Linked DNA regions of Homo sapiens: all the other regions are reported to be linked to region 4. Evidence: microRNA targets listed by miRTarBase, many of them from high-throughput screens and not tested one by one. Region 4 holds a microRNA gene; each other region holds the end of a gene's coding sequence.
The links. The annotated mature microRNA hsa-miR-6893-5p reads CAGGCAGGUGUAGGGUGGAGC and lies in region 4 at 1,895-1,915, shown strand. An mRNA with a match to its seed (bases 2 to 7 or 8) in the 3' UTR can be bound and repressed. Matches are read on the target gene's strand: a 7mer-m8 pairs with bases 2 to 8, a 7mer-A1 pairs with bases 2 to 7 and ends in A, and an 8mer does both.

Region 1: the mRNA of PSMC4 is a reported target of hsa-miR-6893-5p. The part of its 3' UTR that is shown has no 7-base or 8-base seed match.
Region 2: the mRNA of ZNF747 is a reported target of hsa-miR-6893-5p. Seed matches in the 3' UTR shown: 7mer-m8 at 947-953 and 7mer-m8 at 2,135-2,141.
Region 3: the mRNA of FAM131B is a reported target of hsa-miR-6893-5p. Seed matches in the 3' UTR shown: 7mer-m8 at 267-273 and 7mer-m8 at 1,419-1,425.

What each region holds. Positions count from the first base shown.
Region 1 is chr19:39,980,786-39,983,785 of GRCh38, reverse strand. PSMC4 (proteasome 26S subunit, ATPase 4) reads right to left here. Exons shown (of 11, transcript NM_006503.4): 11 at 2,022-2,594. The coding sequence ends at 2,481. Among named protein-coding and RNA genes, the nearest start is that of PSMC4, 11 kb to the right of the region's middle.
Region 2 is chr16:30,530,003-30,533,002 of GRCh38, reverse strand. It overlaps ZNF747 (zinc finger protein 747), which reads left to right. Exons shown (of 3, transcript NM_001305018.2): 3 at 1-2,636. The coding sequence ends at 504. It also overlaps a transcript of ZNF768 not described here. Among named protein-coding and RNA genes, the nearest start is that of ZNF747, 3.4 kb to the left of the region's middle.
Region 3 is chr7:143,353,800-143,356,799 of GRCh38, reverse strand. FAM131B (family with sequence similarity 131 member B) reads left to right here. Exons shown (of 7, transcript NM_001031690.3): 7 at 1-3,000. The coding sequence ends at 250. Among named protein-coding and RNA genes, the nearest start is that of FAM131B-AS1, 6.4 kb to the left of the region's middle.
Region 4 is chr8:144,434,361-144,437,508 of GRCh38, reverse strand. It overlaps MIR6893 (microRNA 6893), which reads left to right and starts at 1,890; the gene lies at 1,890-1,958. It overlaps TONSL (tonsoku like, DNA repair protein), which reads left to right. Exons shown (of 26, transcript NM_013432.5): 14 at 410-482; 15 at 589-752; 16 at 828-951; 17 at 1,091-1,851; 18 at 1,959-2,035; 19 at 2,339-2,492; 20 at 2,620-2,698. It overlaps TONSL-AS1 (TONSL antisense RNA 1), which reads right to left and starts at 2,341. Exons shown (of 6, transcript NR_109770.1): 1 at 2,069-2,341; 2 at 514-758.

The DNA of each region.
Region 1 (3,000 bases), not on the chromosome of region 4:
CATGCCAATAACCTGAACAACCCAATTAAAAACTCTTCATCTGGTAACACAGATTTATTTTATCTACATAGAGTTGACAAGGCAACATTTAATAAAAGATCACTCATACTCCAGTGTACCACAGGATTAACTTTGTCAGAAATCAAGTGAGTATATTATTTTCTTTTTGGACTCCATATTTTGTTCCATTGATTTGTCCATTGGTAAGGCCATACCACACTACATTAGTTACAACAGCTTTACCATCAGTCTGGATATTTGGTATTGTAAGTCTTCCAGCTTTGCTTTTTTCTTCAAATATTCTCTTGGCTATTTCTGAGCCTTTCATTTACTTATATATTTCAGAATCAGTTTGTCAGTTTCCAGCAGGACAAAACTGCTGGGATTCTGATTGGCGCTGCGTTGTTTATAGATCAATTTGTGGAGAATTAATATTTTTACTCGTAATCTTCCAATACATTAACATGTTGTATCCCAACATTTATTTGTCTTCTTTGATTTCTGTCAATATTCTGTAATTTTAACTATTTATATCTCATATTTTAAATTTATTCTTGGCACTTAAGAATTTATTTGATAAATGTTATAATTTAAAATTTAATTTCCTATTTATTTATTGCTGATATATGTATTTGATTTTTTTTCAGAGACAGTGGGTCTTGCTGTGTTGCCCAGGCTGGACTTGAACTCCCGGGCTCAAGCAATTCTCCTGCCTCAGCCTCCTGAGTAGCTGGGACTGTGGATGCATGTCACCATGCCTGGCTTATATTTAATATTTTATATTGACCTTTGTTTAGCCACATTGCTAAATTCACTATTTAATTTTAATAGGTTTTGTGTAGACTTAGATTTTCCATATATGCAATCATGACATTTGTGAATAATGAAGAGTTTCATTTCTTTTCCAGTCCCACGCCTTAATTTTTTTTCTTACCTTATTGTGCTAGGTGGAACTTCAAGTACATTTATGTATGTAACTATTAATTTTATTGAGGTATCAATAAAACTACAATAAATTAGGTACAATTTGATAAGTTTTGACATACACACTTGAAAAACCATTACCACAGTAAAAACAAACAAGCAAAAAAACTAAACATGTCTATCACCTCCTACTTTTTTCTCTATAATCCGTCTCACCTGCCCCAAGCCCCATATACCATTGGTATGCTTTGTTACTTAGATTAGTTTGGATTTTCTAAAACTTTATGTAAATAGAATAATACATTATGTATTATTTGTTGTCTGGATTCTGTCACTCAGCATAATTATTTTGAATTTCACGTTTTTGCATACATCAGTAGTTCATTTTCATATTACTGAGTGGTGTTATATTGCATACAAATATTACAATTTGTTTATCCATTCACTTGCTGATGGATATTTGGGTTGTTTCCAGTTTTAGCTATTTCAAATAAAAATAATGAGAACATTTATTTACAAGTCTTCATATGGATGTATGCCTTATTTTTTCTTAAGTAAATACCTAGAAGTGGCTAAATCATCTGATAGGTGTATTTTTAGCATAAGAAATTGTCAAACTGTTTTCCGAAGTGGCTTACCATTTCACATTCCCACCAGCAGTGTGTAAGAGTTCCATTTCTTGACCAGGCACAGTGGCTCACGCCTGTAATCCCAACAACTTAGGGAGGCCAAGGCAGGCAGATCATTTGAGGTCAGGAGTTCGAGACCAGCCTAGCCAATATAGTGAAACCCTGTCTCTACTAGAAATACAAAATTTAGCCGGGTGTGGTGGCAGATGCCTGTGGTCCCAGCTACTCGGGAGGCTGAGGCAGGAGAATCACTTGAACCTGGGAGGCAGAGGCTGCAGTGAGCCAAGATCTCACCACTGCACTCCAGCCTGGGTGACAGAGCAAGACTCCATCTCAAAAAAAAAAAAAAAAAAAAAAAAAAAAAAAGTTCAGTTTCTCAGTCATGCTAGCCATATTTCAGGTACTTATTAGCCACATGTGGCGAGCAGCTACCATACTGGAGAACACAGAACATATCCATCATTGTGCAAAGTTCTACTGGACAGCACTGGACATCTCCTTCCTATGAACTCCCAAGGCCTGTGACCTGAATTTCTTTACTGTCTTTTACCTGTAGGAAATGAGGGAGATGCACAGGGCTTTATCCCGTGATTAAGGACTCCATCTCAGGTTCATTTTCCATCCCTTTCCCCACATTTTGGAAGTCATCTGGTTTGAATATTTTGGTTCTCTCAAGCTGCAACCCAGGCCATGCACCTCGTCTGCTCATCTGTCAGATTAAGAGGGACCCAGAGGATCCTATTCAAGGCCCACATTCTCCAAAGGAGTTAAACTTCTAAGAAGAAATTAAATGGATTCGATCTTATCTATTTATTGAAGAAACCAATCCTGGGTAAAGAAAAAAGGGAATGAGGTTTTGGGACAGAGGTGCTGGGGGTGCGAGAGAAGCCCCAGCCCCTGAGTGGTGTGGTGGAGGGAAGGGAAGGGTCACTTGTAAAACTCATGCTCCTGCTCGTCCTTCTTGATGACAGTCTTGTATGCTTTCTCGAAGTCCTTGGCCAGGACAATGTAGCGGTTTTCACGGACAGCCAACATTCCACTCTGTTGAAGGATGAGAGTTAAAATCTACTTCCTGTGGCAGGGCACAGTGGCTCACACCTGTAATCCCGACACTTTGGGAGGCTGAGGTATACAGATCACTTGAGCCCAAGAGTTCGAGACCAGCCTGGGCAACATGGTGAAACCCTGTCTCTACAAAAAATACAAAAATTAGCCAGACTGGTGGTGGGCGCCTGTAATCCCAGCTACTTGGGAGGCTGAGGTGGGAGGATCACTGCAGTGAGTCATGATTGCCCCACTGCACTCCAGCCTGGGCGACAGAGTGAGTCCCTGTCTCAAAGCAAAACACAAAAACACTACCCCTGTACTATCCACCCCTAGTGATGGTAGAGGAAGAGAGAGATGGCGCCCACGACCCAGGGCAGCCATGAGGGGACAGGACTGCAGC
Region 2 (3,000 bases), not on the chromosome of region 4:
AGTCGCCCCCGCTTTTTTGCCCACCCCCCTGTCCCCCGAGCTGACCAGCGTCACGGCTGCTACGTGTGCGGGAAGAGCTTCGCCTGGCGCTCCACACTGGTGGAGCACATTTACAGCCACAGGGGCGAGAAGCCCTTCCACTGCGCAGACTGCGGCAAGGGCTTCGGCCACGCTTCCTCCCTGAGCAAACACCGGGCCATCCATCGTGGGGAGCGGCCCCACCGCTGTCCCGAGTGTGGTCGGGCCTTCATGCGCCGCACGGCGCTGACTTCTCACCTGCGCGTTCACACTGGCGAGAAGCCCTACCGCTGCCCGCAGTGTGGCCGCTGCTTCGGCCTGAAGACCGGCATGGCCAAGCACCAATGGGTCCATCGGCCCGGGGGCGAGGGGCGTAGGGGCCGGCGCCCTGGGGGGCTGTCTGTGACCCTGACTCCTGTCCGCGGGGACCTGGACCCGCCTGTGGGCTTCCAGCTGTATCCAGAGATATTCCAGGAATGTGGGTGACGGCCTAAAAAGTGACCATCTAGACATTGTGGGCGGCCCGAGATGGGCTCAGGGGCCCGAACCTCTGCAGCGGCCTGCAGGGAGGTCCCAGAATCCACCGCAAGAGCTGGCCTGGGGTGCGGACAGTCTGATCTTGGGCTCTCAGCAGCCTCTTCTGCCAGCACCTTGCTCCCCGCTGCCCTGGGCTCTCCAAGGCCCCCTTTGCTGAGGCAGGGCTGAGGTGAGAACCCCCCAGACCTCCATACAGGGAAGCAAAAGCTGTTTCTCCTCCCAGAGATGCTAAGAGGATTGAGGTAGAGAAGAACCTTGTTTTCTCTGTTGTCTTTTTCTTTTTACTTTTTTAATTTTTTGAGACGGAGTTTTGCTCTTGTTGCCCAGGCTGGAGTGCAATGGTGCGATCTCGACTCACTGCAACTTCCACCTCCTGGAGTCAAGCGATTCTCCTGCCTCAGCCACCCAAGTAGCTGGAATTACAGGCACCTGCCACTATGCCCGGCTAACTTTTTGTATTTTTAGTAGAGATGGGGTTTCACCATGTTGGCTAGGCTGGTCTCGAACTCCTGCCCTCAGGTGATCCACCCACCTCTGCCTCCCAAAGTGCTGGGATTACAGGCGTGAGCCACCTCACCTGGCCTTTTCTTTTTTATTCTTTGACCTTCCCACAAGACAATACCCATTGTCTGTTTTTTTTGTTTATTTATTTACTTATTAAGACAGCATCTTGCTCCTCACCCAGGCTGGAATGCAGTGGTGTGAACTGGGCTCACTGCAGCCTAGACCTGCTGGGCTCAAGGAATCCTCCTGCCCCAGCCTCTCAGATGGCTGTGACTACAGGTGGGCAACACTATGCCTGGCTAATTTTTAAATTTTTTTGCAGAGATGGGGTTCCCACTATGTTGATCAGGCTGGTCTCAAACTCCTCGGTTCAAGCAATTCGCCCACCTTGGCCTCCCAAAGTGCTGGGATTACAGGGGAGCCACTGCACTGGCCTTCATTGTCTTTTTGCTGCACAACCTAAAAAACCAGTGACCCTGTATTGGATCTCGCCTGCAGTTGCTGTATTGATTTGGGCCCAGGCAGTGTTTTTAAGTGATAAGAATTAGTGATGAAGATCTAAAGGGATATTTTGCACCAAAATCCAGGTTTCTGGCATCTCTTGAAAAATCCAAAGATTTCGCAAGTTCACCTAGGCTCTCAGAAAGTCGCAGTTGTTGGGAGTTGGGCCGGAGCCAGAACTCCCAACTTACTGTGGTCCGGCCACTCATCCCATCAGCTCCTGACCAAGCATGAGTAGCCATTCATCATGGCTTGCTTTTAGTGTTTTTGGTGTTTATCTTAAAGTACAGCAAAGAAGAAAGGGAAGTATTTCTTGAACCCATGTCTGTGTCAAAACAGTCCTTGCATCTTTCCTGTCTTTAGGTACGCACCATCTTTGCTGTCTTTAAGTATGTGCCATCATGGGCAGAGGGGGCTAGGCCAGGAACACCTGGTGTTAGATTTGTAGCCAGTGGCAACCGTACCCATCTGTATCCCCAAGTTCTACACGGAATCCCTCCAGCACTTCACGACTCCATTATCCAGCTACCACTAATTCCTTTGTGGGCAGAGTCCAGCCACGGGCAGCCCCTGCCCTGCCTCTGGTCAGGACAACACCTGCCCAAGGAGAGCAAGGGCCTGTGACCTCTGCTGGCCTGTGCGCCCTCACCTGTCACCCAGCTCAGCCCTGTGTCTGGCCTACCCAGGGAGGAAGGAACCAGATTTATCAGCCTGAAAGGAGGTAGAAGTTTTGGAGAAAAGACACTGTTCGGGTGTCAAGTAATGAACTGACTTTATTCGAACCTCATCTCCAATCCAATCCCACCGTGGTCTCTCTCTCCCTCAGCTTTTCTGGGGCGGGTTGACTCGTGTGTCACTTTATCACAGGGGCACATGGGGTGAGAAGAGGAACCTTGGCAGTAGGAGATACCTTTGTACCAGGTTTTAATTTCCAGTGTACATCTCAGTCCCCTCCCCTAACCCTCAACACAGCCTGGGGAAAGCCCAGCTTGCAACACCAGTTCTCAGCCCAGACTGACAGCCAGATAGATCTTGGCCCTGAGTTTGCCAATTAAAGATGCCGTGATTATTACCTAGAGGTCTCTGAGAGCTTTGAAGTTTGTAAAGTTTACTTATGGCCCAGAAACCAGGCTCCAACTCCTCTGCTTCCTGCCCTCATGACCCAACCTTCCAGCATTTCGTCAATTTTTTTTAGTGTCGTGAAACCCTTAAGCCTTAGCCCCACCCCATTCTCAGCTCCTCAGTTGGTGGCACAGATATTTCCACCTAGAGGTAGGGCCAGGCTAAGTATCTTTTAAAAATGTAGCTATTCTCGGCCGGGCGTGGTGGCTCACACCTGTAATCCCAGCATTTTGGGAGGCTGAGGCGGGCGGATCGCAAGGTCAGGAGACCGAGACCATCCTGGCTAACATGGTGAAACCCCGTCTCTACTAAGGATAC
Region 3 (3,000 bases), not on the chromosome of region 4:
ACCTTTGCTGGGGGGAGACACTGACTGGGCTCCGGGGGTAGGCGCAGTGGACCTGGCAAGGGGCCCTGCTGAGGAGGAGAAGAGGCCATTGGCACCTGAGGAGGAAGAGGATGCGGGATGCCGGGACCTGGAGTCACTTTCCCCACGAGAAGACCCTGAGATGTCTACCGCTCTCAGCCGGAAGGTGTCTGACGTCACATCCTCAGGTGTGCAGTCCTTTGATGAGGAGGAAGGCGAGGCCAACAACTAGTTTCCTCCCCCAATGCCCTGCCTTCCACTCCCACCTGAGGGCCATGGCTGTGACCCATACCCTCCCTCCCCCCAGCAGTACAGCTGAAACTGGGCAGACAACATTGGGGAACCCAGGAGCTTCCAGTCCTCTCCTGGAAATGGAGGACCAGGATGGGATTTTATCCAGGCTTACACTCTAGAAACCCACAGGCCTGGGAACTGAGACCTGGGCAACTAGATGGCCGTGAGCTTGGTGTGGCTGTGGAGAAGGACCTGGGCTGTGGGCTTCTGGGTCTGTGCCGACAAAGCCTCCAGTGTGTGCACCCTGAGGACGGGGGCAGCGCAGCTGTGCTCAAGACTGGATCTCAGTTCTTCACGCCCCGATTTCGTCTTCCAGGAGCTGTAACTCTGCTGTCTGAATGCCTCCTTTCTCCATTTCACTCTTGCTTTTCCCAACTCTGTTTTCTCTGGCTGTGGCCCCAGCTCATCCCTACTGAGAGAACAGACCTCAGGGGCTGTTGGACATGGCTGGACAGGCGCAGGGGAGGCTGCCTGAAGGGCACGTCCATGGGGAGGGTGGAGAGGCTGCCTCAGCAGGTCATTTGGCTTCTGAGATCAGGAGTCGAGGAGGAGGTGGATGTGGCAGCTGAGATCTACAGGGGGCACGGATGTGGTTCTTTCTATCAAGGCCTGCCCGGAGACAAGAGAGTCACTGAGGAGACTAAGAACAAACACAGCCCCTTGCTCTGGGATCTTTAATATCCCATGGCTAAAAGGAAGATCCTAAGGATCTGGGAAAAGACCCAGCCAGGGCTGGCTGCTCCAGCTCTTGCTTCCCTTTCAGCTTTCTTCCATCCCTGCTCCGGGAGCCTGAGGAGGGTGTGGGGACACCCATCTTGGATACACCAACGCAGGATGCAGGTGTCGCCAACAGCAGGGGGAGCATGAGGGCTGTCTCCCCTTATTCACCCCTGTCCTCTGAAGCTGTTTACACTTTTCTCTTTGCCTTTTCTACATTTTTATAACTTCTTGGGCACTCAGGGTTGAGTGGAGTGGAGGGAGGAGTCCGGTGCTGTCACTCCCTCAGCCAGGCAGGGTTGCAGCTGAGGGCCAGGGTGGGCACTCGGCACTTTCTGCCCCTTCTTCAGCTCCTCCCAGGACTCCCAAACAGCCTCACAGCTGTCCTCCCTGCCTCCCCAGGCCTCCTACCAGAGGAAGAGAGGAAAATCAGCGGATTCTTCCTTCCAGGATGGTGTATGGTGAGGCACAAGCTTGCCCTCCCACACTTGGCATCCATGCTGGTGGGGACTGAGCAGCATATGCGCCCCAGCACTACCGTGAGAGCACAGGCAGAGGATGGGCGGAGCAAAGCAGCGGTGCTGTGGGGTTGGAGAGCACTTGGCCCTGCCACTGCCCAGGTAGCCCCTCCCCAGCCCTTGGCACAGGCAGAGTTCGGGTAGGAGAGAGAGGCCTAAGAGGCTCACTGCCCTATCTCCTTCTTTCCTCACGCCCTTCCAAGGCTCCGGCTCCCAGGCCTGTGTCCTACCCACACTCTGTCAGGAGTCCTACCACTTGCATCCTCTGCTGGAAGGGAGCACTGTTGTCCTCTCCTGGCCCTGGGCACAAACTTTGCCCTCACCCCCAGGCCCCAGAACTTATTATTTTGGAGTGAGAAGGTTGAGAGTTGGGGTGTTTCTGTCCATCTATGGTCCTGTCCCGCCATCAAGTTCATACTCTCTTACTCACACTTCTGGGATGCAAGCAGGGCAGGGGGTTCTGTGTCTTCCATGGAAGGGGGACAATGGTTATCCTGAGGTTGGTTTTTGGAGGAAACATGGGCGTAGGCAAGGTGAACCAAGGCAGGTGCAGTCACCTAACCGAATGCTGCCTGTACAGGGGAAGAGTCCTCTTGTGCTTGCTAACGTGTGCTGACTCCATGTCCCAGGACCTCATTTCCAGGAGCTCTGAGAGGTGGTCTAGCATGCCCGCCCTGGCAGCTATTCCCCACCCGTCTCCTGCTGCAGGCTCTGGGGTTTTGCATGTTCATGTGACCTTCCTTCCATGGGGTCCCTGGTTCCTCACCTTCTCCAATGTGTGCTATTCCCACATCACCTCTTCCTGTCGTCTCATCCTCTCAGTGCCCATATCATACCCCCAGACCACGGTGGACAGCTCACCTAGTGAGTGCGTTCATTCATTACAGTTCGTTTTTGCTCAGGCCCGGGGGAGTTAGGAAAGGTAGACCACAGCAGCTTTCGTTCCTCCTTCCCTTTCCCAAGGAAGCCAAATGGTCCCTGACAAAAGATGACTAAAGATCTGAAGGACTCTAGCAGGGTTCATACATGAACCTGCTTTCCCCAGGGTGCTGGCATATTGCTGCAGATGGAAGTCAGGTGGGGGTCTGTCTTCTGCAAGGAGCTCCTACTCGCTCTGAAGAGGGAGACTGAGGAGCTGGCCTGGGACCATCTTAGGACTCTTCTGGTGCTGGGGGCAGGGTGCATGGGGGTTGCTTATCGTCTATTTCAGGGGGTGGGGAGGGGCATGTGCAGGAAGAGGCTGTTTCGGGGTGGGAAAGGGTTGCTTTTCCTTTGGGGTTAAGGCTGTGCAGCACGTTTTACAGCAGTCCTGGAACAGGGCTGTTTTTATATTCTTGTGAATGAAACTGCTCTTGCTAAATGATTTTCTTTTTTTGGAGGGGGGGTGCACTTTCATTTTCAATTGACTTTATTAAATGAAAATCCAAATCTTCCACTCCTCCCCCTCCATTGT
Region 4 (3,148 bases):
CAGCCTGGCTGGTCTCAAAAAAAAAATGGGGTACCTGCTGTGTGGTATGCATCTGTGTTACAGCTAAGTTGGTCAGCCTGGCCAGGATGGGGGCTAGCCCATGGGCTGAGATCTGGGCACCTTCCCGCCCCGCCTGCCTCATGCCCCTGCGACCAGGTGCACTGTCTCCCCACAAGGGGACCGGGCAGGCACAGAGGCGGAGGATATGCTGTGGCTGGTCCACCTGTCTCAGGGGGAAGCATGTCCTTCACTGGTGACACCTAGGCCGGAGGAGGAGAGGGCAGGGCCACGGACTTGCTCTGGGCTCTAAGACTGAGGCCCTGGGCTCAGCTTAGGCTGCAGAGCTCACGGGGCTGGGGCCAGGCTGTGAGGTACACAGGGCCAGGCTCCTTCCTGTCCTTGGTCACAGGGCCACCCCCTTAACCCTCGGGACTACTGTGGCTGGACACCTCTGCACGAGGCCTGCAACTACGGGCATCTAGGTGAGCAAGGGACAGAAGGAGCCTGGCGCACCTTGGTGGACACGTGGGGCGAAGAGTCAGTCCTGGCGGGGCATCGGGAGCTGGGCTTACGTCTCCTGGTCTGCAGAAATTGTCCGCTTCCTGCTGGACCACGGGGCCGCAGTGGACGACCCAGGTGGCCAGGGCTGCGAAGGCATCACCCCCCTCCACGATGCCCTCAACTGTGGCCACTTCGAGGTGGCTGAGCTGCTGCTTGAACGGGGGGCGTCCGTCACCCTCCGCACTCGAAAGGTGAGCCTGGTGGGGCAGAGGGCAAGGGCGAGGTTATGGGGGCTGCTGTGCCCCTGCTCAACTGATGCCACACAGGGCCTCAGCCCGCTGGAGACGCTGCAGCAGTGGGTGAAGCTGTACCGCAGGGACCTGGACCTGGAGACGCGGCAGAAGGCCAGGGCCATGGAGATGCTGCTCCAGGCGGCTGCCTCGGGCCAAGGCAAGCAGGGCGTCCCTTGTCCCTGGGGTTGCTGTGCCTACGCTGAGAGTCCCCGGGCCCTGATTTCGGGAGATGCTCCATCACAGGTGGAGCGGGAGGTGCCGGGCCCCTGCCTCAACACGCATTCTCTCTCCCACAGATCCCCACAGCTCCCAGGCCTTCCACACCCCAAGCAGCCTTCTGTTTGACCCCGAGACCTCTCCTCCTTTGAGCCCCTGCCCAGAACCCCCCTCTAATAGCACTAGACTCCCAGAGGCCTCTCAGGCCCATGTCAGGGTCTCCCCAGGGCAGGCGGCACCAGCCATGGCCAGGCCTCGGAGGAGCAGGCATGGGCCAGCCAGCAGCAGCAGCAGCTCAGAAGGCGAGGACAGCGCAGGCCCCGCACGGCCGTCCCAGAAGAGGCCTCGGTGCTCGGCCACAGCACAACGGGTGGCAGCCTGGACGCCTGGCCCCGCCAGCAACAGGGAAGCAGCCACAGCCAGCACCAGCCGGGCAGCCTACCAGGCAGCCATCCGGGGTGTGGGCAGTGCTCAGAGCCGGCTGGGGCCTGGCCCACCGCGGGGCCACAGCAAAGCCCTTGCCCCCCAGGCAGCGCTCATCCCGGAGGAGGAGTGCCTGGCCGGGGACTGGCTGGAGCTGGACATGCCCCTGACCCGCAGCCGCCGGCCCCGCCCCCGGGGCACTGGAGACAACCGCAGGCCCAGTAGTACCTCTGGGTCGGACAGTGAGGAGAGCAGGCCCCGTGCCCGAGCCAAGCAGGTCCGCCTGACCTGCATGCAGAGTTGCAGTGCGCCAGTTAACGCAGGGCCCAGCAGCCTGGCTTCAGAACCTCCAGGGAGCCCCAGCACCCCCAGGGTCTCAGAGCCCAGTGGGGACAGCTCTGCGGCAGGCCAGCCCTTGGTGGGTATGCAGACCTGGAGCAGAGCCCTCTCCCCACTCCGGGCAGGCAGGTGTAGGGTGGAGCCCACTGTGGCTCCTGACTCAGCCCTGCTGCCTTCACCTGCCAGGGTCCGGCCCCGCCCCCTCCCATCCGGGTTCGAGTTCAAGTTCAGGATCATCTCTTCCTCATCCCTGTCCCACACAGGTGAGGCATCGCCTGCCCTACCCCGCAGCCCACCTGTGCAGCTCCATGCCAGGGTGCTCGTGTTTGCATGTCAGGGTGGGGCGTGTGACGAGGGCTCCCTGGTGTGTTCCAGGAGGATCCTGTGGCCCCCAGGAATAGCAGAGGGGCTGGTGGTGTGCTGGGCTGCAGGGAGAGGAGGGGCCGGCTACCTGGGAATGGGAGAAGCAGCTGAGGGGGCTTCTGGCCCTGGGCAGGGATGGCGGGTCCCTGGGGCATTACCCCGGCTGTGTGCAGGCAGCAGCAGCAGCGCCTCTGTCCCTGCAGCAGTGACACCCACTCTGTGGCCTGGCTGGCCGAGCAGGCGGCCCAGCGCTACTACCAGACCTGCGGGCTGCTGCCCAGGCTCACCCTACGGAAAGAGGGGGCCCTGCTGGCCCCACAGGACCTCATCCCTGATGTGCTGCAGAGCAATGACGAGGTGAGCCGCAGAGCGGAGGGGGAGCCAGGGCCTCAGGCACCGGGAGCCCCCGGGTGGCTCATGGCTGCAGAGCAATGATGAGGTGAGCCGGGGGAGCCCCCAGGTGGCTCATGACGGTGCCTTCCAGGTGTTGGCTGAGGTGACTTCGTGGGACCTGCCCCCGTTGACTGACCGCTACCGCAGGGCCTGCCAGAGCCTGGGGCAAGGTGAGGGCCAGGAGAGCTGCAGTTTCTGGGTGAGGTCGTACAAGGGGGTTGGGCACACAGGCTCCACCAGCCCGGTTCATTCCTGGGCCTCGGGTGTTTTGGGGTGCACCTCCCCCAGCCTGGTGGGTGCTGTGTCCTGCACTTGGATGTGTGGGTGGAAGGGAGAGGACAGCCCTCAGCCCCCATGATCTGCTGACAGGGAGATGGCAAAAAGCAGCCGAAAGCCTGGAAAGTCAAACCCAAGGAGGAGGGCCTGGCATGGGCTGGGAGCTGCTGGGGAAGCTTCCCAGAAAGCTTGTCCCGGGGGGTGTGGAATCTGGCAGTGACTGGTGGAGCTCAGGGTGCTGCAGACCCACCCCGGCCCCCAGGGCCTCACAGTGCTAGACCCACAGGCATGTGCGAGTGGGCTCTACAGCAAGTCTGGTGGGTGACCCCTGGGGCTGTTGAAAA